Homo sapiens: one gene and its partners. The protein of the gene in region 1 interacts with the protein of each later gene in a biochemical or structural test. Each region holds a gene or a part of one and is shown in the gene's direction. Other genes may lie near its edges.

Evidence for each region.
Region 2: of the proteins of GSK3B (region 1) and NFE2L2, one has a biochemical effect on the other in vitro, tested with the Homo sapiens proteins (2 studies listed by BioGRID).
Region 3: of the proteins of GSK3B (region 1) and XIAP, one has a biochemical effect on the other in vitro, tested with the Homo sapiens proteins (one study listed by BioGRID).
Region 4: of the proteins of GSK3B (region 1) and KLF5, one has a biochemical effect on the other in vitro, tested with the Homo sapiens proteins (2 studies listed by BioGRID).
Region 5: the proteins of GSK3B (region 1) and MUC1 form a complex in vitro, tested with the Homo sapiens proteins (2 studies listed by BioGRID).
Region 6: of the proteins of GSK3B (region 1) and KLF2, one has a biochemical effect on the other in vitro, tested with the Homo sapiens proteins (one study listed by BioGRID).
Region 7: of the proteins of GSK3B (region 1) and MYOZ1, one has a biochemical effect on the other in vitro, tested with the Homo sapiens proteins (one study listed by BioGRID).

What each region holds. Positions count from the first base shown.
Region 1 is NC_000003.12:120,087,948-120,091,447, reverse strand, and holds part of GSK3B (glycogen synthase kinase-3 beta), read left to right. Parts: intron 1-3,500. UniProt on the Homo sapiens protein: Constitutively active protein kinase that acts as a negative regulator in the hormonal control of glucose homeostasis, Wnt signaling and regulation of transcription factors and microtubules, by phosphorylating and inactivating glycogen synthase (GYS1 or GYS2), EIF2B, CTNNB1/beta-catenin, APC, AXIN1, DPYSL2/CRMP2, JUN, NFATC1/NFATC, MAPT/TAU and MACF1.
Region 2 is NC_000002.12:177,229,808-177,233,727, reverse strand, and holds the end of NFE2L2 (nuclear factor erythroid 2-related factor 2), read left to right. Parts: intron 1-388; coding exon 389-478; intron 479-1,144; coding exon 1,145-1,336; intron 1,337-1,719; coding exon 1,720-2,943; 3' UTR 2,944-3,420; downstream 3,421-3,920.
Region 3 is NC_000023.11:123,866,553-123,870,052, forward strand, and holds part of XIAP (E3 ubiquitin-protein ligase XIAP), read left to right. Parts: intron 1-3,500.
Region 4 is NC_000013.11:73,069,005-73,072,504, forward strand, and holds part of KLF5 (Krueppel-like factor 5), read left to right. Parts: intron 1-3,500. UniProt on the Homo sapiens protein: Transcription factor that binds to GC box promoter elements. Activates the transcription of these genes.
Region 5 is NC_000001.11:155,187,620-155,189,915, reverse strand, and holds part of MUC1 (mucin-1 isoform 10 precursor), read left to right. Parts: coding exon of another isoform or gene 1-676; intron 677-981; coding exon of another isoform or gene 982-1,299; coding exon 1,300-1,753; intron 1,754-1,852; coding exon 1,853-1,908; intron 1,909-2,057; coding exon 2,058-2,194; intron 2,195-2,296. UniProt on the Homo sapiens protein: The alpha subunit has cell adhesive properties. Can act both as an adhesion and an anti-adhesion protein. May provide a protective layer on epithelial cells against bacterial and enzyme attack.
Region 6 is NC_000019.10:16,323,496-16,327,625, forward strand, and holds the start of KLF2 (Krueppel-like factor 2), read left to right. Parts: upstream 1-1,330; 5' UTR 1,331-1,428; coding exon 1,429-1,503; intron 1,504-1,720; coding exon 1,721-2,537; intron 2,538-3,360; coding exon 3,361-3,536; 3' UTR 3,537-4,130.
Region 7 is NC_000010.11:73,634,975-73,638,474, reverse strand, and holds part of MYOZ1 (myozenin-1), read left to right. Parts: intron 1-552; coding exon 553-731; intron 732-3,500. UniProt on the Homo sapiens protein: Myozenins may serve as intracellular binding proteins involved in linking Z-disk proteins such as alpha-actinin, gamma-filamin, TCAP/telethonin, LDB3/ZASP and localizing calcineurin signaling to the sarcomere.

The sequences.
Region 1 (3,500 bases):
ACTAACTAAGGATGGAGTAACTCTTGTAAAATATATAGATGAAAATGTTTAATTCCGATTACCATATAGGTCAATTTAGAATTTTAAAAGTTGGAGTTTAGTGTTAATTATGTGTTTTTGACAGCTTTGACTTTAAAAGCATTTAAAAGAAAGGGGAGTCTTTAAGCATTTGTTAGGATGCTAGCATTCTAAGGAACCCCTGTTGAAAACAGACATAAGAAATTGTAGTCCTTGCTCTCAAAAGCTTATCCTTTAGTTGTAGAGGGAGGCTATGGGGAAAAAAAAATTAAAACAATAGCGTGATGACTGCAAGATTGTAAAATACAAATTGAATCATTTGTTCAGAGTGGCAAAGAGTAAAGGGGTGAGACTGATGGTTGGGAGAGGAAAGACTTCCTGCGGACAAGGTGTATTAGGACTGATGTTAAAGGAGGTGGTAACTTGAACTGGTAGAAAAGCATGAAAGGTCTAGGTGGAAGGAGTGTACCAAGGAACAATGATGGTGAGTTTTGCATGAGAGACAATAATCAAGTTGACAAATCTGAATTAAAGGGGCCTAAATAAGAACATAAGAACAGATGGAATTTGAGAAATAAGAGAAAGTTAGCTGATGGAGGGCAGAGGGGTTCTGTACAAGTTTGATTGAGATTCAGAAGAGATCTGGATTTATTGTTGGTTGCTGAATAAGACGTAAGATGATTTTTGCAGTTGAATTAGTGAATTATAGTAGAGAGATGCTAGAGCCTTTTTAGGGAGCTAGTAGGGTATGTTGTGAATCATGAGGGAATAAAGTAAAATGTGAAAGTGGGGTGAAAGGAACAGGTTTGAGAGACAGTGTGAATGAAGAACTGGCAGAACTTCATACTGGACTGAAGTGGAATATTTGTGAAGGAGTCAAGAGTTAAAAATAAATTCTGATGTTACTGGCCTGGAAGACTTGACTGCTAAGTTATATTGTTAATTGTAATGGGAAAATTGAGAAAGTGCTGAGGTGAGAGGGTAGGTGAGTTCACTTTCTTAAAATTTAATATACAATAAGTTCCCTTGAAATTCAGACAGCAGTTAGTTACTGGCAATGATATTTGACTTCCTAGTCTATTAATTGCACAGTTTCTAATTTTTCTACACCTAAAGATGTTGGATTTATATTCGGGAGCAGTAAACTAAGGGCTTTTATTTAAATGCTTCTCATCAAAGTCCTAATTTTTTTTTTTTTTATATACAGCTTCAAAAGCCTCACACTTGAAACCTGGTTATAATAGTTTCATGATGGCTTATTTCAGATCAATGAAAATACTTTTGGGACTAAACTGTGACTGTAACATTTTAGATATGTAGCCATTAATCTTTGATATATGCTTAAAACTTGTTTTTTATAAATAATGATTATTACTATTATTTTAAATGCAAAATTTATCTAAGAATAAAGTATTGAGAGCCTTCACTTTGTGAAGACTCCAGAAGAAATTAAAAGTTGATTTTATAACAAGTATTTTTTGCCCTTTTTGTTGAGTTTAGGCATTAATCCCAAATTTAAATCAGTATATTTGAAATACTACTTTTTACTTGCTATAGTGAAACCAATGTTTCATTTTTGTTCACTTCCAAGTTTACATGTAATTAAATAAATGTTTATAAAGTTTTTCTTTAGAATCACATGATATTTTACTCCATAGGGAAAGTAAGGGACTGTTTGTGGCACTTTTGGTTAAAATATTAGTAATCCTTTTGGTATATACAATTGGAGAAAATTTAGCTAGTTGTTTAGGTTTAATACTTAAATATAAGATTTAGAAATATGAAAATAAGTCTGTATCACTTAAGTTGTTTCCTCATATAAAACTTTTTTAGATCAAAATTTCTATTAGCAAAGAGAGAATAATAGTAGCTGCATATTATTCTGCAGTATTACGTCGTATGGTGATTAAAGCCAAAGAGTAGGTAGCAACTTAGAGTTTCCGTATTCCCCTGGGAAGTTTAATCTCTTTATGACATCTAAAAATTAGGTTATTAGAGTTTAGTCCATTTCTTGATAATCCTGTGTTAATGTGGAAAAGAGTTCATGTGTGAGACTGAAAACCAGAACTTTATTTTCAGTCATTTCCCAACCCGACTTCCCCAGAGTTGTTAAAACGTTTAAGATATTTAAGAATTGCATGCTTTCTTGTTGCATGCACCTGTAGAATGCTAATTGTGAAGTGACAGTAAGTCACAGGCAAAAGGAAAAACTTCAAGGGAACCCAGTGATTCACAAATCACCTTATGGCTGATTGGGAACTGCATTTAGAAAATGAGGTGACATCTTCTCATTTCACTGGCAAAGTTCAGCTGAAAATCAGTACTTGCACGCTTTACTGTGTAGCCCTTATATTAGAATTGAGTTGCAGGTGTGAGATAATATTTTGGAGAAACAGCAAGGCTGGGAAAGTCAGAGATTTTATTCCAGCAGCAGAGTCTAAAGAGTGGGAGAGCTCTATTTGTGTGTGCACTTTATGCATAGAGAAGGCTGTGAAACATGCATATGTTGACCCTATTGTCACAGTTCCATACTTTTAAATAAGACCCATGAAGTTGAGACAGGGTTGGAGATGACAGACAGGATGTGAGATTGTGGTGCTTCTTGTGATGCTCCACCCTATAATGGAGAATGGAGGGGCAGAACGCTTGTGTGGGTGAGACAAGAGTGTGTGTTGGTACTAACAGGACCAACCGGGTTCCCCGGATATTGTTCTTCTAAGAACATAATCACCATAAGTAAATTAATTTGTTGGAATGTTTATCATTTTCTAGCTGATTTTTTGTGTGTGTGTGTGGGGTGGTGGTGGTGGAAGGGGAGTTTTCCCCGATTTCAAGAATAAAAGCATTTTCATTGTTCAGAAGAAGAGCATTTTCATTAAAGCGGAGGTTGCACTCTTGGCATTTTATCTTGAGTTATACAAATCATCCTTGGTTATACAAATCAAATTGCTTTTGAAATTTGTTGAGTGTAATGTATAAATGTATATTTATATAAAAACCTATGTGAATAGAACAGCAAGGAAAAACTGAGTAGAGTTAAAGAAGTTTGTTTTCCCTGAGATTTTCTGCCTTTAAATTTATATAAAAAAGGAATATTCCATTTTACGTTATTGAGTTTTCTATTTTTTTAAATGAGCTAATACTCAGTACATAATGGACATTTTTAGTAAATTATTCCAATATACTTGTGTCTGTAATGCATTTGATGTGGTATAAGATTTAGAAACACAATTTAGTTCGGCTGGCACGGTGGCTCACGCCTGTAATCCCAGCACTTTGGGAGGCCGAGGCGGGTGGATCACGAGGTCAGGAGATCAAGACCATCCTGGCCAACGTGGGGAAACCCCGTCTCTACTAAAAATACAAAAATTAGCGGGGGCGTGGTGGTGTGCGTCTGTAGTCCCAGCTACTCAGGAGGCTGAGGCAGGAGAATCGTTTGAACCCATGAGGCGGAGATTGCAGTGAGCTGAGATCGTGCCACT
Region 2 (3,920 bases), on another chromosome or scaffold:
AGCAACAGAAGTAGTAGCAGGAGAACCAAGTAGCAGGGATTACTGGCGTTACTGTGTGTGGCAAGCACTGTTTTAAGAACATATACTGACTGATTTAATTAACACAACTATATTAATTAGTTACCATTATCCCTGTTTTATCTACGATGAGCAACTGAAGCTCACAAAGGTTAAATAATTTGCCCAGATCACTCAGAAAATTGGAGGAGCTAAGATCTGAACCCATGTGGTCTAGTTCAAATTGTGCATCAAAGTGATCTCTGAAATAAGATAAATATTTACTTAACTTGATTATAAATATTTTATGAACATCAATTATTGAATATTTAGCTTGGCAATGGAATATTTAACCATTTTTGTTTTCCTTTGTGTCATTCCCTTTTATCAGGTTGCCCACATTCCCAAATCAGATGCTTTGTACTTTGATGACTGCATGCAGCTTTTGGCGCAGACATTCCCGTTTGTAGATGACAATGAGGTGAGGTATAAAATAACCTGGTTAATAGAAAAACTCCATCATAACTATAAAATAACAATCTATTCTATGTAAGTCCCGTCAATGAATCTCCATTTAAAAGAATAAAAACATTTTTAGGAGGAAATTTTTTAACCAAGGAAATACTCTTGTCAAGGAAACCTTAGCCTATAAATAACTTTACAATTAAGAAAAAAAAAAACCCTTCACACAATACAAAACCAAAACCATTGACTATTGCATAGCCAGAAACATGGACAGCATAACCATGGAAACAAATAACCCATTTGCTGCAAGTATCTAAGAGGTTTGGTGAGTAAAGAGCCAGCTGGGCAATAAACGAAGACTTGTTCAGTTAACAATTTTAATAAATCTGTTTTATCTAGTACCACTGTGCTAGATATTATATAAACTAAATCCTAAAGATTGTACTTACGCATTTTAAAGTTTACTTTCAAATGCTTAAGCTGAAACAGACCAGCAAATTATAAATTTGAGTCAGTGGGGTAGGAAAAAAAGATTTGTTATTTACAAACGGGGTCATGACTGGTTAGTAAGTAGAGAGACACAGAACTGCAGCTGATTCCATTTTGTTTTGTAGTGGTGCCTTAGAGCTTACTCATCCCCTGTTGGTGGAAGACTCATAAATCAATGCCTTATCAATTTTAGGTTTCTTCGGCTACGTTTCAGTCACTTGTTCCTGATATTCCCGGTCACATCGAGAGCCCAGTCTTCATTGCTACTAATCAGGCTCAGTCACCTGAAACTTCTGTTGCTCAGGTAGCCCCTGTTGATTTAGACGGTATGCAACAGGACATTGAGCAAGTTTGGGAGGAGCTATTATCCATTCCTGAGTTACAGGTAACTAAAATAGAATGTAATACTGGAGATTTTTTTTATATTCAGTGCCTTTAGTCATTCTGATTATTTATATACCACCTATTTATAGGAAGGATTGGAGGGTGCTATTAACTTAGTCATGAGTACTGCCCATGCTAGTTAAATTGGTTGGACATCTTGAGGATAGAATGTTATAAACCTGACGTCTGATCTGGGAACTCTGAAAATAATACATAACGCTTAGGCGTAAATATGTATTGGAAATGAGAATTATCTCTGAATTATAGATAATAAATTATAGAGATAAGCCTGAAGATAATGTGGGTAGGGAGTTTATCTAAATTTATCACGTATTATCATGGATTAACTTTGATTTATATAGTATAAACTTCCTTCTCATGCAGTGTCTTAATATTGAAAATGACAAGCTGGTTGAGACTACCATGGTTCCAAGTCCAGAAGCCAAACTGACAGAAGTTGACAATTATCATTTTTACTCATCTATACCCTCAATGGAAAAAGAAGTAGGTAACTGTAGTCCACATTTTCTTAATGCTTTTGAGGATTCCTTCAGCAGCATCCTCTCCACAGAAGACCCCAACCAGTTGACAGTGAACTCATTAAATTCAGATGCCACAGTCAACACAGATTTTGGTGATGAATTTTATTCTGCTTTCATAGCTGAGCCCAGTATCAGCAACAGCATGCCCTCACCTGCTACTTTAAGCCATTCACTCTCTGAACTTCTAAATGGGCCCATTGATGTTTCTGATCTATCACTTTGCAAAGCTTTCAACCAAAACCACCCTGAAAGCACAGCAGAATTCAATGATTCTGACTCCGGCATTTCACTAAACACAAGTCCCAGTGTGGCATCACCAGAACACTCAGTGGAATCTTCCAGCTATGGAGACACACTACTTGGCCTCAGTGATTCTGAAGTGGAAGAGCTAGATAGTGCCCCTGGAAGTGTCAAACAGAATGGTCCTAAAACACCAGTACATTCTTCTGGGGATATGGTACAACCCTTGTCACCATCTCAGGGGCAGAGCACTCACGTGCATGATGCCCAATGTGAGAACACACCAGAGAAAGAATTGCCTGTAAGTCCTGGTCATCGGAAAACCCCATTCACAAAAGACAAACATTCAAGCCGCTTGGAGGCTCATCTCACAAGAGATGAACTTAGGGCAAAAGCTCTCCATATCCCATTCCCTGTAGAAAAAATCATTAACCTCCCTGTTGTTGACTTCAACGAAATGATGTCCAAAGAGCAGTTCAATGAAGCTCAACTTGCATTAATTCGGGATATACGTAGGAGGGGTAAGAATAAAGTGGCTGCTCAGAATTGCAGAAAAAGAAAACTGGAAAATATAGTAGAACTAGAGCAAGATTTAGATCATTTGAAAGATGAAAAAGAAAAATTGCTCAAAGAAAAAGGAGAAAATGACAAAAGCCTTCACCTACTGAAAAAACAACTCAGCACCTTATATCTCGAAGTTTTCAGCATGCTACGTGATGAAGATGGAAAACCTTATTCTCCTAGTGAATACTCCCTGCAGCAAACAAGAGATGGCAATGTTTTCCTTGTTCCCAAAAGTAAGAAGCCAGATGTTAAGAAAAACTAGATTTAGGAGGATTTGACCTTTTCTGAGCTAGTTTTTTTGTACTATTATACTAAAAGCTCCTACTGTGATGTGAAATGCTCATACTTTATAAGTAATTCTATGCAAAATCATAGCCAAAACTAGTATAGAAAATAATACGAAACTTTAAAAAGCATTGGAGTGTCAGTATGTTGAATCAGTAGTTTCACTTTAACTGTAAACAATTTCTTAGGACACCATTTGGGCTAGTTTCTGTGTAAGTGTAAATACTACAAAAACTTATTTATACTGTTCTTATGTCATTTGTTATATTCATAGATTTATATGATGATATGACATCTGGCTAAAAAGAAATTATTGCAAAACTAACCACTATGTACTTTTTTATAAATACTGTATGGACAAAAAATGGCATTTTTTATATTAAATTGTTTAGCTCTGGCAAAAAAAAAAAATTTTAAGAGCTGGTACTAATAAAGGATTATTATGACTGTTAAATTATTTGTTTGGGATTCCTTTGAGTTTATTCACACAGTATTTTCCATAAGATAATCATCCATTTAATTTAGATGTTTTGCATTTTCAGAATGTTTTATTTGAAAATATAAAAATAATTTTATACTACATTTCTAGTACCAGGGTTACAGAGAAATAAAGTATATCAAGAGGATACTTTGCCTCTTCAATAGCAGGTACATCTAAACCCAAGAAAATGTTACACACTGACATGAAAGCACTGATTCATTTATTTCCATCAGTAGACATACGCCCACTATACCCTAGGCAGAGTTTGAAGTAGAAAGGACAAAACCAATATCCCTGCCTGGCCTGGAACTTGCATTCTAGCGAAGGGGAGGTAACAAGCATACTCCACTATGTTAGAAGGAACTGGACGGGGAAAACCAGTAAAAAGCGTCACAACTTAAGGCTGTAAATGGGAAGAGCCTTACTGAAGTGGCAACATTTGAAGGTGTGGGAGAAGCTGTTCTCATAGCCAA
Region 3 (3,500 bases), on another chromosome or scaffold:
TGTATGATATATATAATATAGTATATAATATATTACATGTATAATATATTATATATAATATATAATACAATATATGTAAAATATATATAATATATAACACAATATAATATGTAAAATATATTACATATATAATATATATATTTTTCAGACAGAGTCTAGCTCTGTCACCCAGGCTGGAGTGCAGTGGTGAGATCTTGGCTCACTGAACCTCCGCCTCCCAGGTTCAAGCGATTCTTCTGCCTCAGCCTCCCAAGTAGCTGGGACTACAGGTGTGCTACCACACCTGGCTTATTTTATTTTATGTATTTATTTATTTTTCTGAGACGGAGTCTTGCTCCTGACCTCATGTGATCTGCCCGCCTCGGCCTCCCAATGTGCTGGGATTCCAGGCATGAACCACCGTGCCTGGCCAGAGATATGTGTTTATTATAGAAAATTTATGAAATAGAATAATGACGATCATATTGTCTACAGGTTGTTTTAATCCCCCCCCCCCCTTCAACATTCTATAGTTAACATTTCTGTTTTTTTTTTTGAGACGGAGTCTCGCTCTGTCGCCCAGGCTGGAGTGCAGTGGTGCGATCTCAGCTCACTGCAACCTCCGCCTCCTGGGTTCATGCCATTCTCCTACCTCAGCCTCTCTAAGTAGCTGGGACTACAGGTGCCCGCCACCACGCCTGGCTAATGTTTTTGTATTTTTAGTAGAGACGGGGTTTCACCATGGTCTCCATCTCCTGACCTCGTGATTAGCCCGCCTCAGCCTCCCAAAGTGCTGGGATTACAAGTGTGAGCCACTGCGCCCAGCAGTCTTTTTTTTTTTTTTGGTTTGGTTTGGTTTTTTAGACAGAGTCTCACTCTGTCCCCCAGGCTGGAGTGCAGTGGCACAATCTCAGCTCACTGCATCTCCGCCTCCTGGGTTCAAGTGATTCTCCTGCCTGAGCCTCCTGAGTAGCTAGGATTATAGACATGTGCTACCACGCCCGGCTAATTTTTGTATTTTTAGTGGAGGCATGGTTTCCCCATGTTGGCCAGGCTAGTCTTGAACTCCTGACCTTGTGATCCGCCCGCCTTGGCCTCCCAAAGTATTGGGATTACAGGTGTGAGCCCCCGTACCTGGCCTTTTTTTTTTTTTTTTTTTGAGACGGAGTTTTGCTCATGTTGCCCAGGCTGGAGCGCATTGGTGCAATCTCAGCTCACTGCAACCTCTGCCTCCTGGGTTTAAGTGATTCTCCTGCCTCAGCCTCCCAAGTAGCTGGGATTACAGGCGCACGCACAACCATGCCCAGTTAATTTTTCTATTTTTAGTAGAGATAGTGTTTTACCATGTTGGCCAGGCTGGTCTCGAACTCCTGACCTCAGGTCATCCACCTGCCTTGGCCTCCCAAAGTCCTGGGATTACAGGCATGAGCCACTGCGCCCAGCCTGAAGTCTTTCAAAATACATTTTTTATTTATCCAGTGTATTATTTTATACTGCACTTTCTTCATCTGTAAAGTAACAGGGTCAGGCATGGTGACTCATACCTGTAAGCCCAGCACTTTGGGAGGCTGAGGTGGGAGGATTGTTTGAGACCAGCCTGGGCAACATCGTGAGACCCCGTCTCTACCAATAATAAAAAAATTAGCTGGATGTGATGGCACGCGCCTGTGAAGATCGCTTGAGCCCGGGAGGTCAAGGTGGCAGTGAGCCATGAGGGCACCACTGCATTCTAGCCTGAGTGACAAGAGTGAGGCCCTGTCTCAAAACAAACAAACAAGCAAACAAACAAACAAAAAACCCAGGGTGGCTGGGCTTAAGGACTAGTTGATTCCAACGATTCAAAACCCATTATAATAGTTTTTAAGCCTGATTATCTGAGATTTTGTCAAGGAAAAAAATTCCACATAACAATCCCAGGCCAGGCATGGTGGCTCATGCCTTTAATCCCAGCACTTTGGGAGGCCAAGTCAGGGAGATCCCTTGAGTCCAGGAGTTCAAGACCAGCCTGGGCAACATGGTAAAATGCTATCTCTACTAAAAATAGAAAAATTAACTGGGCATGGTTGTGCGTGCACCTGTAATCCCAGCTACTCTGGAGGCTGAGGTGGGAGGATCACTTGAGCCCAGGAGGTGGAGGTTGCAGTGAGTCAAGATCAGGGCACCCCATTCCAGCTTGGGGGACAGAGCAAGACCCTATCTCAAAAAACAAAAACAGGAATTTGAGGCCAAATTTATGGATTATATATTTTATCTGCTCTGTATGTGGTTAATAATAGGTTATCCTTTATATGATAAAAACATACTTATGTCCATTTTGCAGGACTTGGCATGGGCTTTTATTGTTTTAAATTGTGATACATTTGTAGCTCTGCTGTTTGATACATTTTGGGATTTGATTTTGGTATGATTTGGTACCCAGTCTTTGTTATGGATACATGTGATTCACCTTGTTATGATATAGTTTTATGTATTTTCGAGGATATGGGTCATAGTGAAAAGTCACGTTTACCTGTACAGACTGAGAATAGCTTGATCTCAGATGGTCAGATGTTGAACCAAGTGGATTAAAGCTGATTTCTTAAACCGGACAAGGCTGCTGCCATTGTGCATTCCCTGGTACTTATAAAATATTATGGTTTGAAATTTTATTCTTATTTCTGTAATCATCTTATTCACCTTAAATACAGAAATACAGACATCTGGCTGGGCGCAGTGGCTCACACCTGAAATCCCAGCACTTTGGGTGGCCGAGGCAGGTGGATCACTTGAGGTCAGGAGTTCAAGACCAGCCTGACCAACAGAGCAAAACCCCATCTCTACTAAAAAAATACAAAAAAAAAAAAAAAAAAAAAAGCTGGGTCATGCCTCTGCAATCCCAGCTACTTAGGAGGCTGAGGCAGGAAAATTACTTGAGCCTGGGAGGTGGAGGTTGCAGTGAGCTGAGATCATGCCACTGTACTCCAGCCTGGATGACAGAGTGAGACTCCATCTCAAAAATAAAGAAAAGAAAAAAAAAACACAGACATCTCAGCATATATTACCATGTGACTTAACCTTTCTATGGTTCTAGCTAATTTTTTAGGCCTTGAAAGGGAAGGAAGCCTAACATTTTCTGCTACCTCATTGGACTGTCCCTTCTGCCAGTAATCCTTGTAGTAATTTCCTTAGACCTATATTGGTCATAATCACTGGGTGCATGACCTTTGATGAGTAACAGTCAGAACTACTGTTTCCTCATATTTCAGATGAGGCCTATGATATATTATGTAGGTTAAATTAGATTCCATATATGAAAACATTCTAAATTGTAAAGCACATTACATATGTTAGTTATTATCAAAGGTAACATCGTGAAAGAAGAGAAGATGAGCTATAGAATCACACAAGCCCATGCTTAAATTTTGACCTTACATTAAACCAAAGAGGATTGATTTTTTTTTTTAATTGAGACGGAGTCTCGCTCTGTCGCTCAGGCTGGAGTGCAGTGGCGCAATCTCAGCTCACTGCAACCTCTGCCGCCC
Region 4 (3,500 bases), on another chromosome or scaffold:
AGAATTGCTTGAACCTGGGAGGCAGAGGTTGTGGTGAGCCAAGATCATGCCACCACACTCCAGCCCGGACAACAGAGCAAGACTCCATCTGAAAAAATAATAATAATAAAAAATAAAAAATCGATAATATTGACAATAAAGATATTTTCATTGCAGGTACTTACTAAAAGCAACATTCAGTGTTCTGAACATAAGTTACTCTTCTTTTTGTGGAACTGTGGGAAAAGGGTAAAAGGCTTTTTAGGAAAACTGTATACAAAGGTTTTCACTCTGGGCCTTAATGGATGGAGATCTTACAATGTGAATCGAGAAATAATAGTGGTTAAATGTGTAACCTGTTTTATTGGTAGAGATAACACAGGCAAAATCTTTTTTGCAGGAAGAGATTTAGGACTCAGTGGTTTTTTGAGTCTCTATTTGAAAACTATTGCAGAGGAAGTATCACATTTATTAGCCTTTAGTATTAGATTTTATTAAACATTCTTTTCATTCTTTTCCATTTTTTTTTCATTTGCAGCTTTGAAATTTATTTTGTGTATTGATAATTTCAAACAATTTTTTTTTAAAGTAGTAGCTTAAGAGACTTGCTGGTTCAGACCCCAGGAAAGGTATTTATGAGCATGAAAGCTTAGAAGCAATTTCTTTTTAATGACTCACTGGGAAGATTAAACTTTGCTTCTAGGACTTGTTCTTTCTTCTGAGAAACATTTACATAGGAAATTGATTAAACATTGTTTAGAGATGATAAAGCTTATCAAAAGTTAAGTATAATTTGATTCAGCAAATATTTTTTACTGGTTTTGTGGAGAATCCAAAGATGAATAATCTCTTCTTGCCCTTTTGTTCATAGACTAAATAGAATTGCTGGAGTGGAGATAGAAATAATTAGTCTTGAAAGTAGAGAGTAATGTTTTTAAAAAATAATAATACAGTCACCCAAGAATTTGGCAGATATTTTTGGTTCTATAGAATGTAGTAGCTGTTTACTTGATGGCCTACATCGTTTCTAGTGAAAGATTAGAAATAATGTCCTACTTTAGTAAAAGTATCTCCGTAGCAGCATTCCTAGTCTGTTAGCCAGTATTATTTATATTCAAGGATCTCAAACAACAACTCTTATTAAGGATAAGTTACAGTTTTAGAAGTGCACAGTAGGTAACTTTTACCTAAAAATATCTATATAGAAGAATAAATTTATTTTTGGCTACTTTATGAAAAGGTAAACCTTTACGAGTTGGGAGGAGACCTACTGGTCAGGGTCACCATGTGAAGTGCAAATTAAAGGGAAGGTTATCTAGTACTCATTCCATACTGGGAAAAAATGAAAATAGAGGATTTTTCTGTTTTGCTTACAAAAAGAAAAGGTGAAATTCCTCATTGACACTTTAACGTCAGTGCGAACTCCCATTATAAGAAAGTGAATCCGAGTGTTGTCTCGTTATCAGGAGACGGAAGAATTGGTATTTGATTTCATTAACTCTATTAATGACAGGGGATAGTCTTCATAATGTTTACTGGGAACCCAGAGGAGAAGTAGCAGTAGTTTAGGAGCCCAGAGATTCCAAATCTCTGCTAGGATGTAGACTGTAAGTGTAACCCCTGACATCGTGATCCCACCCATTCCCTCTCTGGGTTTGGCAGATCAGTGCTTTCTGGCCCTGGGAGAAGTCCCCTCGCTGCCTTTGACCAGTGCTAGGGGCTCTAGTATGTCTTGGCTTTCCTGAAGTCCAGTCCAGTTCTACCTAAGACAATTTGTTTAAACAGAGTTTATCCCTGTATAACTTCAGAATGGACAATAACTCATTCGATTATTTTCTCTGGAAGTGGCTCAAAACATGGTTCTCACCTAAATGCGTATTACCAGATTACTCTCAGTGGTCCTGGGCAGGGCAAAGCCAGGCAAAAGCCCTGCTGCAGGAGGGTCCACAGAAGAATAAAAAGCTGACAGCCTCACAAGAACCTTTTATGCCTTCCCTCCTTTTCTTTAATCAGAATAACTGAGTTGTTTTCAAGATGCATTAGGGAAAGTGTGGCATTACAGCAGGAATAGAAGATAGTCTCTGCCCTTGAGGAACTTTAAAAGCTAGTTAAGGAGGCAAAATACAACTATTTGAAGCCTTCCTAAAGCAGTATATGTGCAAGTGCAAATTGATAGCTCAACAGAAATTTCAGTGATGGGGATACAGAGAAGTGAAATGATCTCTCCTGGTCTGTTCAGAGGCTTTCTAGAAGGAGTGAGGTATCGGATTTTAAAGAAAGTGATAAATATAAATTGAGGAGAGAAAGGAATTTCTCTTTTGTTGCTTTTGTTTTTGTTTTTGGCAATCAGCTTCCTTAGGTTGAATGGGCACAATATTGATGGTGTTATCTGGTAAATAATTAGATGCATTTACAAATGCTAATAATACTAATCTTTGATATGGACCTTCTGTTCCAAGTATAGGAAATGTGTGACAATGAGTTTTAATAGAAAGGTTTTTGATGGAAAATTACTGGCATAGACGTAAAAATATGAATTAGTGAGCTAAAATCATCCTCCTACTTTATCTCTTTTCTTAGATATCTAAATCATTTTCCTATGAATTTCTTTAATAAGTGTTTCCTATTTTTCTCCCTTTTGATTTTTAGAAGCAAATCTAATATGAGCCTATTTCAGAGACTAAATTTCGTAAGTCTCAAATGATGGGAAAAATCTAATTATTATTGAATTGCATGAAAATATTTTCCTCTTGAAATAAGAGCCCATTTTGAGCTTCAAGGACTCTTAAGTTCTAAGAGTTTAGATTAGGTTGAAATAATTTATTCTACTTTAAAAGTTTGGATTGTTTAGGTTCGCAGAACAAGATACAAGATTTTAAGTTCTTTGAGGCCAGAAACCAAGTCTTATTTGAGTTTTGCAAGGCATTTAGTACAGGTTACACCTTCACTAATAAACAGTGACTTTAATTCTCATGATATTTTAGCTTTATCAGATATTGATTGAGTTGTCTTTTAGTCACCAGGAAGGAAACCGATGTGTAAATTTGCTGCAATAAACTTTTAAAACATTATCTAAAATAACTATTTTAAGATAAATATTTTATCAGTGATTTTTATTCTTTTGTTAGAAGAATCTATGTAGAACATTTTAGGGAAAGGCCTTGGTATGTCTATTGAATGTGTTCAGCAGAGCAGAGAAACTTCCCATTCCATTGTGATAGGTTCAGAAGTCATTCAGAGGGGGGAAAAAAAAGGACAATTTTCAGTTTGTTGCTGAGGATTTTTAAAATGGCTTACAAACATGTTCCACTAACCCACTGAAATTCACTTACCCTGGGGGAAAGGAGCTATCGTTAGGTGATACCTGGGAATTGGCAATACCTGAACAGTGCTCAGGACCCCACAGGCCCCACAGAGGCTGGCACTGCCAGGTTGTGCTCTCTGTTTCAGATCGTCTGGGGTTCAAGGCTTGCTGTGAGTCCATTAAGCCATTCCTTAGCTGACCTTCGCAAGTGGCTTTA
Region 5 (2,296 bases), on another chromosome or scaffold:
CGGCCCCGGACACAAGGCCCGCCCCGGGCTACACCGCGCCCGCAGCCCACGGTGTCACCTCGGCCCCGGACACCAGGCCGGCCCCGGGCTCCACCGCCCCCCAAGCCCACGGTGTCACCTCGGCCCCGGACACCAGGCCGGCCCCGGGCTCCACCGCCCCCCCAGCCCACGGTGTCACCTCGGCCCCGGACACCAGGCCGGCCCCGGGCTCCACCGCCCCCCCAGCCCACGGTGTCACCTCGGCCCCGGACACCAGGCCGGCCCCGGGCTCCACCGCCCCCCCAGCCCACGGTGTCACCTCGGCCCCGGAGAGCAGGCCGGCCCCGGGCTCCACCGCGAGAGCAGCCCACGGTGTCACCTCGGCCCCGGAGAGCAGGCCGGCCCCGGGCTCCACCGCCCCCCCAGCCCACGGTGTCACCTCGGCCCCGGACACCAGGCCGGCCCCGGGCTCCACCGCCCCCCCAGCCCACGGTGTCACCTCGGCCCCGGACACCAGGCCGGCCCCGGGCTCCACCGCCCCCCCAGCCCACGGTGTCACCTCGGCCCCGGACACCAGGCCGGCCCCGGGCTCCACCGCCCCCCCAGCCCACGGTGTCACCTCGGCCCCGGACACCAGGCCGGCCCCGGGCTCCACCGCCCCCCCAGCCCACGGTGTCACCTCGGCCCCGGACACCAGGCCGTCCCCGGGCTCCACCGCGCCCGCAGCCCACGGTGTATATTTAAAACAGAGAGCAGGCCGGCCCCGGGCTCCACCGCGCCCGCAGCCCAGCTCACAGTGTCACCTCGGCCCCGGACACCAGGCCGGCCTCGGGCTCCACCGACACTCCAGCACACGGTGTCACCTCGGCCCCGGACAACAGACCGGCTCCGGGCTCCACCGCCCCCCCAGCCCACGGTGTCACCTCGGCACCGGACACCAGGCCGGCCCCCGGGCTCCACCGCCCCCCCAGCCCACGGTGTCACCTCGGCCCCGGACACCAGGCCGGCCCCGGGCTCCACCGCCCCCCCAGTCCACGGTGTCACCTCGGCCCCGGACACCAGGCCGGCACCGGGCTCCACCGCCCCCCCAGCCCACGGTGTCACCTCGGCCCCGGACACCAGGCCGGCCCCGGGCTCCACCGCCCCCCCAGCCCACGGTGTCACCTCGGCCCCGGACACCAGGCCGGCCCCGGGCTCCACCGCACCCCCAGCCCACGGTGTCACCTCGGCCCCGGACACCAGGCGGGCCCCGGGCTCCACCCCGGCCCCGGGCTCCACCGCCCCCCCAGCCCACGGTGTCACCTCGGCCCCGGACACCAGGCCGGCCCCGGGCTCCACCGCCCCCCCAGCCCATGGTGTCACCTCGGCCCCGGACAACAGGCCCGCCTTGGGCTCCACCGCCCCTCCAGTCCACAATGTCACCTCGGCCTCAGGCTCTGCATCAGGCTCAGCTTCTACTCTGGTGCACAACGGCACCTCTGCCAGGGCTACCACAACCCCAGCCAGCAAGAGCACTCCATTCTCAATTCCCAGCCACCACTCTGATACTCCTACCACCCTTGCCAGCCATAGCACCAAGACTGATGCCAGTAGCACTCACCATAGCACGGTACCTCCTCTCACCTCCTCCAATCACAGCACTTCTCCCCAGTTGTCTACTGGGGTCTCTTTCTTTTTCCTGTCTTTTCACATTTCAAACCTCCAGTTTAATTCCTCTCTGGAAGATCCCAGCACCGACTACTACCAAGAGCTGCAGAGAGACATTTCTGAAATGGTGAGTATCGGCCTTTCCTTCCCCATGCTCCCCTGAAGCAGCCATCAGAACTGTCCACACCCTTTGCATCAAGCCTGAGTCCTTTCCCTCTCACCCCAGTTTTTGCAGATTTATAAACAAGGGGGTTTTCTGGGCCTCTCCAATATTAAGTTCAGGTACAGTTCTGGGTGTGGACCCAGTGTGGTGGTTGGAGGGTGGGTGGTGGTCATGACCGTAGGGAGGGACTGGTGCACTTAAGGTTGGGGGAAGAGTGCTGAGCCAGAGCTGGGACCCGTGGCTGAAGTGCCCATTTCCCTGTGACCAGGCCAGGATCTGTGGTGGTACAATTGACTCTGGCCTTCCGAGAAGGTACCATCAATGTCCACGACGTGGAGACACAGTTCAATCAGTATAAAACGGAAGCAGCCTCTCGATATAACCTGACGATCTCAGACGTCAGCGGTGAGGCTACTTCCCTGGCTGCAGCCCAGCACCATGCCGGGGCCCCTCTCCTTCCAGTGTCTGGGTCCCCGCTCTTTCCTTAGTGCTGGCAGCGGGAGGGGC
Region 6 (4,130 bases), on another chromosome or scaffold:
ATGAATAAACCTCTATCCTTCCCTCCTTCACTAAAGTGGAGGTCCCCTAGGGCAGGGATCTTGTCTATCTCTTGGTTACTGTGTCCCCAGTGCCTACCCAGGGCTGGCAGACAGTTGTAACAGGAGTGACAGTCCCTGGCCAGCAGGGATATGGTGTGGGGGACAGAGGTGGAGCATTGAAGGGACCCATTGGGCAGCATTGTCCTCTGATGCCCCCGATGCTGGAGCTGTATTGGGGGAATGACTGTCATCACCGTCCTCTGAGTTACTTAATTCATTTATGGAAGTCAGTAAAGGAACCCAGCCTGCCTGTGCCTGCCGCAACTCCAACTTCTCCCAGCCACCTCTGCCTCAGTTTCCCTGCACTTGACGGGCTTATTGAGGTTGGGGAGGAGGGGGTGGGTGTCTCAAATGTCAAAGATTTAATGTGTCTTGATGTTACCACACAAAAGTTTTGTTTTGTTTGTTTTTTTGAGACAGTCTCCTCTGTCACCCAGGCTGGAGTGTAGTGGTGTGATTGTATCTCACTGCAGCCTCGACCTCCTGGGCTCAAGCGATCCTCCCACCTCAGCCTCCCACTACACCCAGCTAATTTTTTTTATTTTTTAAGAGATGGGGGCCACTGTGTTGCCCAGGCTGGTCTTGAACTCCTGGCCTCGAGTGATCCTCCTGTCTCAGCCTCCCAAAGCGGTGGGATTACAGATGTGACCCACTGCACCAGGTCTACACAAGGTGTTTTTTTTTACAGGGTGATGTGCACACGGTGGGTCCCTCTGGGTGGTCCCACAACAGATGAGGGGCCCAGCCTCACCCATCCATGAATCCTGGAGACTCCAGACTTCCCATCCATCCAGGGTTCTGCAGCCCTCTCTGAGGCTGGAGCCAATCTCCCCTTCCGTCAAGGGATCCGGGGAGACCGCCAAGCCCGGTGCTCCCCTGAGAGTCTCTGAGAGGCCCCGACACCGCCCCCGCTCCAGGTCCCCGGGATGCTCGCGCAGGCGGGAGCCCGGGGCGCCCGGGGGATCCCTGAGCGTCACGCCGCTGTTGTGGAGCGCGTGTTGACAACGTCGCCGGGGAGACGGGCGGGGGCGGGGCCCGGGAGAGGGGGAGGCGCGGCCCTGGCGGCGCGCGAGGGGCCGGGCTGTCAGCGCAAGGCCCAGGCCGCCGCAGTGGCCACGGCCGCTGCCGCCCGCCGGCTTATATACCGCGGCTAAATTTAGGCTGCGCCCGGAGCTCGTCCCCATCCGGGACGCGTTTCCGCCGCCGCCGCTTTGGCCCGGCCCCCGCGCGCGCCGCGCCTATAAGGCTTGGGCGGGCCCGGCCGCGGCCCACAGAGCCGTCCCCGCCCGCCCGCGCCCCGACCAGCCCGGCCTCGGGCAGCCACTCACCGGTGTCCCCGTCCGCGTCCTTTCTCCCCGGGTCCCGGCCATGGCGCTGAGTGAACCCATCCTGCCGTCCTTCTCCACTTTCGCCAGCCCGTGCCGCGAGCGCGGCCTGCAGGAGGTGAGGGCGGCGGGGACGGCGGGGCGGCCGGGACCGTGGGCGGCGGGCTCGGGGTAGTAGAACGTGGGCTGCGGGGTGACAGGACGCGAAGGCGGGGACTGCAGACTCAGGAGAGGAGGATGCGGGCCACGGGGATCGCGGACTTAGGGTGGTAAAAGGCAAGCAGCGCCCCCCGAGCCCCGCCGCCCGCTCACGCCCATTGCCCTGTCGCCCGCAGCGCTGGCCGCGCGCCGAACCCGAGTCCGGCGGCACCGACGACGACCTCAACAGCGTGCTGGACTTCATCCTGTCCATGGGGCTGGATGGCCTGGGCGCCGAGGCCGCCCCGGAGCCGCCGCCGCCGCCCCCGCCGCCTGCGTTCTATTACCCCGAACCCGGCGCGCCCCCGCCCTACAGCGCCCCCGCGGGTGGCCTGGTGTCTGAGCTGCTGCGACCCGAGCTGGATGCGCCGCTGGGGCCCGCACTGCACGGCCGCTTTCTGCTGGCGCCGCCCGGCCGCCTGGTCAAGGCCGAGCCCCCTGAAGCGGACGGCGGCGGCGGCTACGGCTGCGCCCCCGGGCTGACCCGTGGACCGCGCGGCCTCAAGCGCGAGGGCGCCCCGGGCCCGGCGGCTTCGTGCATGCGAGGTCCCGGGGGCCGCCCCCCGCCGCCGCCCGACACACCGCCGCTCAGCCCCGACGGCCCCGCGCGCCTGCCCGCGCCCGGTCCGCGCGCCTCCTTCCCGCCGCCTTTCGGTGGCCCTGGTTTCGGCGCGCCCGGGCCCGGCCTGCATTACGCGCCGCCTGCGCCCCCAGCCTTCGGTCTCTTCGACGACGCGGCCGCCGCCGCGGCAGCCCTGGGCCTGGCGCCCCCCGCCGCCCGCGGTCTCCTCACGCCGCCTGCGTCCCCGCTGGAGCTGCTGGAGGCCAAGCCAAAGCGCGGCCGCCGCTCTTGGCCCCGCAAACGCACCGCCACTCACACCTGCAGCTACGCGGGCTGCGGCAAGACCTACACCAAGAGTTCGCATCTGAAGGCGCATCTGCGCACGCACACAGGTGGGCGGCACGCACGAGCCAGGAGCGCAGGCGGGGGGACGCGGGAGGAGAGGTCGGATTCCCAGCGCGCGCCAGAAAATGAATTTAGGACCTCCCTTGGGGCGTGGCTCAGGGGGATCTGGCAGGTGGTGCACGCTTAGGACTCCCCAGGAGGCGTGGCTCGGGAGGTTGGTTGGGGGGGCACACAGGAACACTCCCTAAGGAAGTGTGATCCGAGAGGTTGGGGTGGGGGCTTGCACGCTTAGGACGAGGGGGGCCTCCGGAGGTTGGGAAGAGCACTTAGAAAACCTCCTGGAGGCGTGGCTAGGGAGACAGTCTCAGAAAGTTGGGGAGGGGGAGCAGGTTTAGGAGCCGCTGGGCACTTGGCTCAGAATCCCCGGGGCTGAGGCTCAGGTAGTTGGGGAGTAGGTGCGCGTTTAGGAACCCCGGGGAGATGCTGCGTCTCAGGAAGTTGGGGAGGGCGCTCAGGCTTGGGACTCCTCTGGGGACAAGGCTCAGGACCTTGGGGAGGGAGTGTTCGCTGGGAAACCTTGAGAGATTCCGTGTCTTAGAATGCTGGAGAGAGGGTGCATGCTTAGGACCCGTCGGGGAGCGTGGCTGACAACAGTGGGGAGTGGACCTTGCGCTCCTCCGACCCCCTGGGGGTGAGGATCCGGATTGTGGGGGGAGTTGGGGATGTAGGGCAAGGATCCCTCAGGGGCGCAACACTACCGCGGGGAGCGCGTCAAGGCCCTGGTTAGGGATAGGTTGCGCTCGCCGGGGTAGCCATACGTGCCCTGTCCTGGGAGGGGAACTGACGCTTACTCTCGCCCCCTCCCTGCAGGTGAGAAGCCCTACCACTGCAACTGGGACGGCTGCGGCTGGAAGTTTGCGCGCTCAGACGAGCTCACGCGCCACTACCGAAAGCACACGGGCCACCGGCCATTCCAGTGCCATCTGTGCGATCGTGCCTTCTCGCGCTCCGATCACCTGGCGCTGCACATGAAACGGCACATGTAGCCGGGACGCCCCCGCCCACCTGCGCGCGGCCGTGGCGGGTCCCACGCGCCGGGCGCGGCCCCCTCCCAAACTGTGACTGGTATTTATTGGACCCAGAGAACCGGGCCGGGCACAGCGTGGCTACAGAGGGTCTCCCTCGATGACGACGACGACGACGCCACCACCCCAGCCCCCGTCTGTGACTGAAGGCCCGGTGGGAAAAGACCACGATCCTCCTTGACGAGTTTTGTTTTTCAAAATGGTGCAATAATTTAAGTGGCATCTTCTCTCCCACCGGGTCTACACTAGAGGATCGAGGCTTGTGATGCCTTGTGAGAAATAAGGGCCTTAATTTGTACTGTCTGCGGCATTTTTTATAATATTGTATATAGTGACTGACAAATATTGTATTACTGTACATAGAGAGACAGGTGGGCATTTTTGGGCTACCTGGTTCGTTTTTATAAGATTTTGCTGGGTTGGTTTTTTTTTTAATTAAAAAGTTTTGCATCTTTTAAAAAAAATCACAGCACTGGTCTGGTTGCTTGGAACTGGGGCCTTGGGGCACTTGGGAGGAGGGGGGAGCGGAGAGTTTGATGGAGGGCAGCCCCACTA
Region 7 (3,500 bases), on another chromosome or scaffold:
TGCAATCCCAGCGACCTGGGAGGCTGAGGCAGGAGAATTGCTTGAACCTGGGAGGCGGAGGCTGCAGTGAGCTGAGATCGCGCCATTCCACTCCAGCCTGGATGATAGAGCAGGACTCTGTCTCAAAAAAATGAAAAAAAAGAATAAAAAATAAAAACAAATATATATATATATATATATATGGCATCTGTATTTGGACTCCACACAAGATTGGCCTCTGGGTTTTTCCTGATGCCATGGTTTCTCCAATGGCCTCCATCTATGATGTTCCTTTACTCCTTTTGCTCTGTACCCCATGCCCGTACCTCTTTTACCCCATTGGCCTCTCCACTCTAGTATTCCCATTATCTCCACAGTGCACCCCAGTTCCCATGCATTCTCTCCAAGTCCCAGGAAATCAAAATCCCTCACAAACTAGACAGCATTTGTTCCCCTAAATGACCTCTGCCAGGACACACATACACACTTAGTTGTGGATGAGGTCTGCATTCTGAGCCCAGAAAACCCTACTTTCCTCTTTCCCTTGATTCTTCTTCTTTGCCTCCCTGAAAGGTGGACAGGAGAGCTCAGGCTTGAACCTGGGCAAAAAGATCAGTGTCCCAAGGGATGTGATGTTGGAGGAACTGTCGCTGCTTACCAACCGGGGCTCCAAGATGTTCAAACTGCGGCAGATGAGGGTGGAGAAGTTTATTTATGAGAACCACCCTGATGTTTTCTCTGACAGCTCAATGGTGAGTCTGGAACTTTATCACTATCTCAAAGCCTGGTGCCTGTTCTGACAGCTTGTTAGTAGGCCCTGAACCTCCAAAATGCAGTCAACATCCCCTCCCTGAAAATTTATAAATTTGTTAAACCCCCAGATATATTGAGCCCGCAACAGCTCCAGGGTGAGTTACAGCCCACCTCTGAAACCCAGTTTTCATCATAGAGCCACTGAAGGGTTGGAGAATACCACACCCTTAGGGAGAAAATTCCTTCCCAGTAAAGGTAAGTGTTAAAGATAGATTGCCAGATAAAACACAGGATGCCCAGTGGGGCAGTCCAGTCTTGTATTTTGAAGTTGAGATACACAATGAATAATTTTTTAGTGAAGTATGCTCCATGCAATATTTGGGACATAAAGATAAAAATTTAAAAAAATTTTAGAAAGAAGATAAGGCAGCCAGGCATGGTGGCTCACACCTGTAATCCCAGCACTTTGGGAGGCCGAGGCAGGTGGGTCACCTGAGGTCAGGAGTTTGAGACCAGCCTGGCCAACATGGTGAAACCCCCATCTCTACTAAAAATACAAAAAATTAGCTGGGCGTGGTCGTGGGTTCCTGTGATCCCAGGTACTCAGGAGGCTGAGGCAGGAGAATCACTTGAACCCAGGAGGTGGAGTTGCAGTGAGCCCAGATTGTGCCACTGCACTCCAGCCTGGGCAACAAGAGTGAAACTCTGTCTCAAAAAAAAAAAAAAAAGAAAGAAAAAAGAAAAAAGGAAGAAGATAAGGCAAAGAATAAAATTGAAATTTTAAAATACAGAATATACAATTAAATTTGAGTTTCAGATGCACAATGAATTCTTTTTTAAATATGTCCCATGCAATATTTGGGACATTAAAATAAAAATACAGGATGTCCACTTAAATTTGAATTTCAGATGCAAATGAATAATTTTTTTAGTATAAGTAAGTCCCAAGCAATATTTGGAGGCATATCTATACTAAAAAAGTATTTGGGTCAAGTGTGGTAGCTCACACCTGTAATCCCAGCACTTTGGGATGCCAAGGCAAGAGGACTGCTTGAGTCCAGGAGTTGGAGACCAGCCTGGGCAACATGGCAAGACTCTGTTTCTACAAAAAATTAAAAAGTTAGCTGGGTCTGGTGGCGCACACCTGTAATCCCAGCTACTCTGGAGGGTGAGGTGGGAGGATGGCTTGAGCCTGGAAGGTAGAGGATGCATGAACATGAGCCATGTTCACACCACTGCACTCCAGCCTGGGTGACAGAGAACCCATCTAAAAAAAAAAAATAAAAATTTGTTGTGCATCTGAAATTCAAATTTAAGTGGTATCCTATATTTGATTTGCTAAATCTGGCAACCCTAGAAAGAGTTAATTGAGTTTTTACAGCCACCTCCCATTTGAGCCATTCTTCCATTTAAAGGGTCAGTCTATTCCCTAAGAAGCCCCAGGTGTGGAGACTGAAACGGTCCTTCAAGATATATTCTAGTCAGGCTCCTTCTCCAAAGAAAGAGGAGACTGGAGAGGGGCCAGGCACAGGATGGTATAGCTGAGGAAGAAGGGCCTTCTCCATTTCCTTTCTTCCTCCTCCACCCTCTCTGAGTGGCTGGGGGAGAGTGGAAATAGATGCCTGCATGGGGCCGGGGGCAGAAGTGTCTGTCATTGGTCCTCATATAGGAGCAGAGTAAAAGTGCTGAGCTGCTCATATCTAACTTTAGGAGGCCAAAAGCACTCTTCTCTGCCTGGGTCTGGTTACACTGGGTGGAGCATTGGGGTGTACATGGTGGGATGGCCAGGAGAGCCTCCTGAAGAAGTTGGTGGGGTTATTTTTAGGCTTTGGGTTTGCATCTAATGTTGCCCTTTTGGCCACACTTCCCCCCACCTGCTACAGTGTCACTGTCACCAGTGAGGTCCAACAGGCACCAAGAGGAGAGAGGAAGAGAAAGAAGGAGAGAGAAGAGAGTTCTGACTGTTGGACAAGCTGAGGAAGGGAGGGGGCAGAATTTCTCTAGTCCTTGTAATTAAGACTGGGTGCTCCATGGCAACCCCATCCTCCCAAATTTTAGTTGGGGCTGGACACAGCTCATGCCTGTTATCTCAGCACTTTGGGAGGCTGAGGCAGATGGATCACTTGAGCCCAGGAGTTTGAGACCAGCCTGGGCACATGGCAAACCCTGTCTCTAGGAAAAAAAAAAATACAAAATTTAGCTGGGTGTGGTAGCATGCCAGTAGTCCCAGCTACTTGAGAGGCTGAGGTGGGAGGATTGCCTGAGCCAGGGAGGTGGAGGTTGCAGTGAGCCGAGATTGTGTCACTGCACTCCAACCTGGGTGACAGAGCCAGATTCTGTCTCAAAAAGCAAAAGAATTTTTTTTCATTTTTTTTTTTTAAAGCTGGGCAGGCGTGTTGGTCTTTTTTGACTTGTTAAGGATGAGAAAGGGGAGTGTGGAGAACACGCTGCCCTTACCCTAGGTATAACTGGAGGAAACGAGCCAAGGGAGTCCTACCTCTTAAGAAGAGTTTAATTCGGGCTGGGTGCGGTGGCTAACGCCTGTAATCCCGGCACTTTGGGAGGCCGAGGTGGGTGGATCATCTGAGGTCGGAGTTTGAGACCAGCCGGACCAACGTGCAGAAACCCCACCTCTACTAAAAATATATCAAATTAGCCGGGTGTGATGGTGCATGCCTGTAATCCCAGCTACTCGGGAGGCTGAGGCTGGGAATTGCTTGAACCTGGAAGGCTGAGGTTGCGGTGAGCCGAGATCGTGCCATCACACT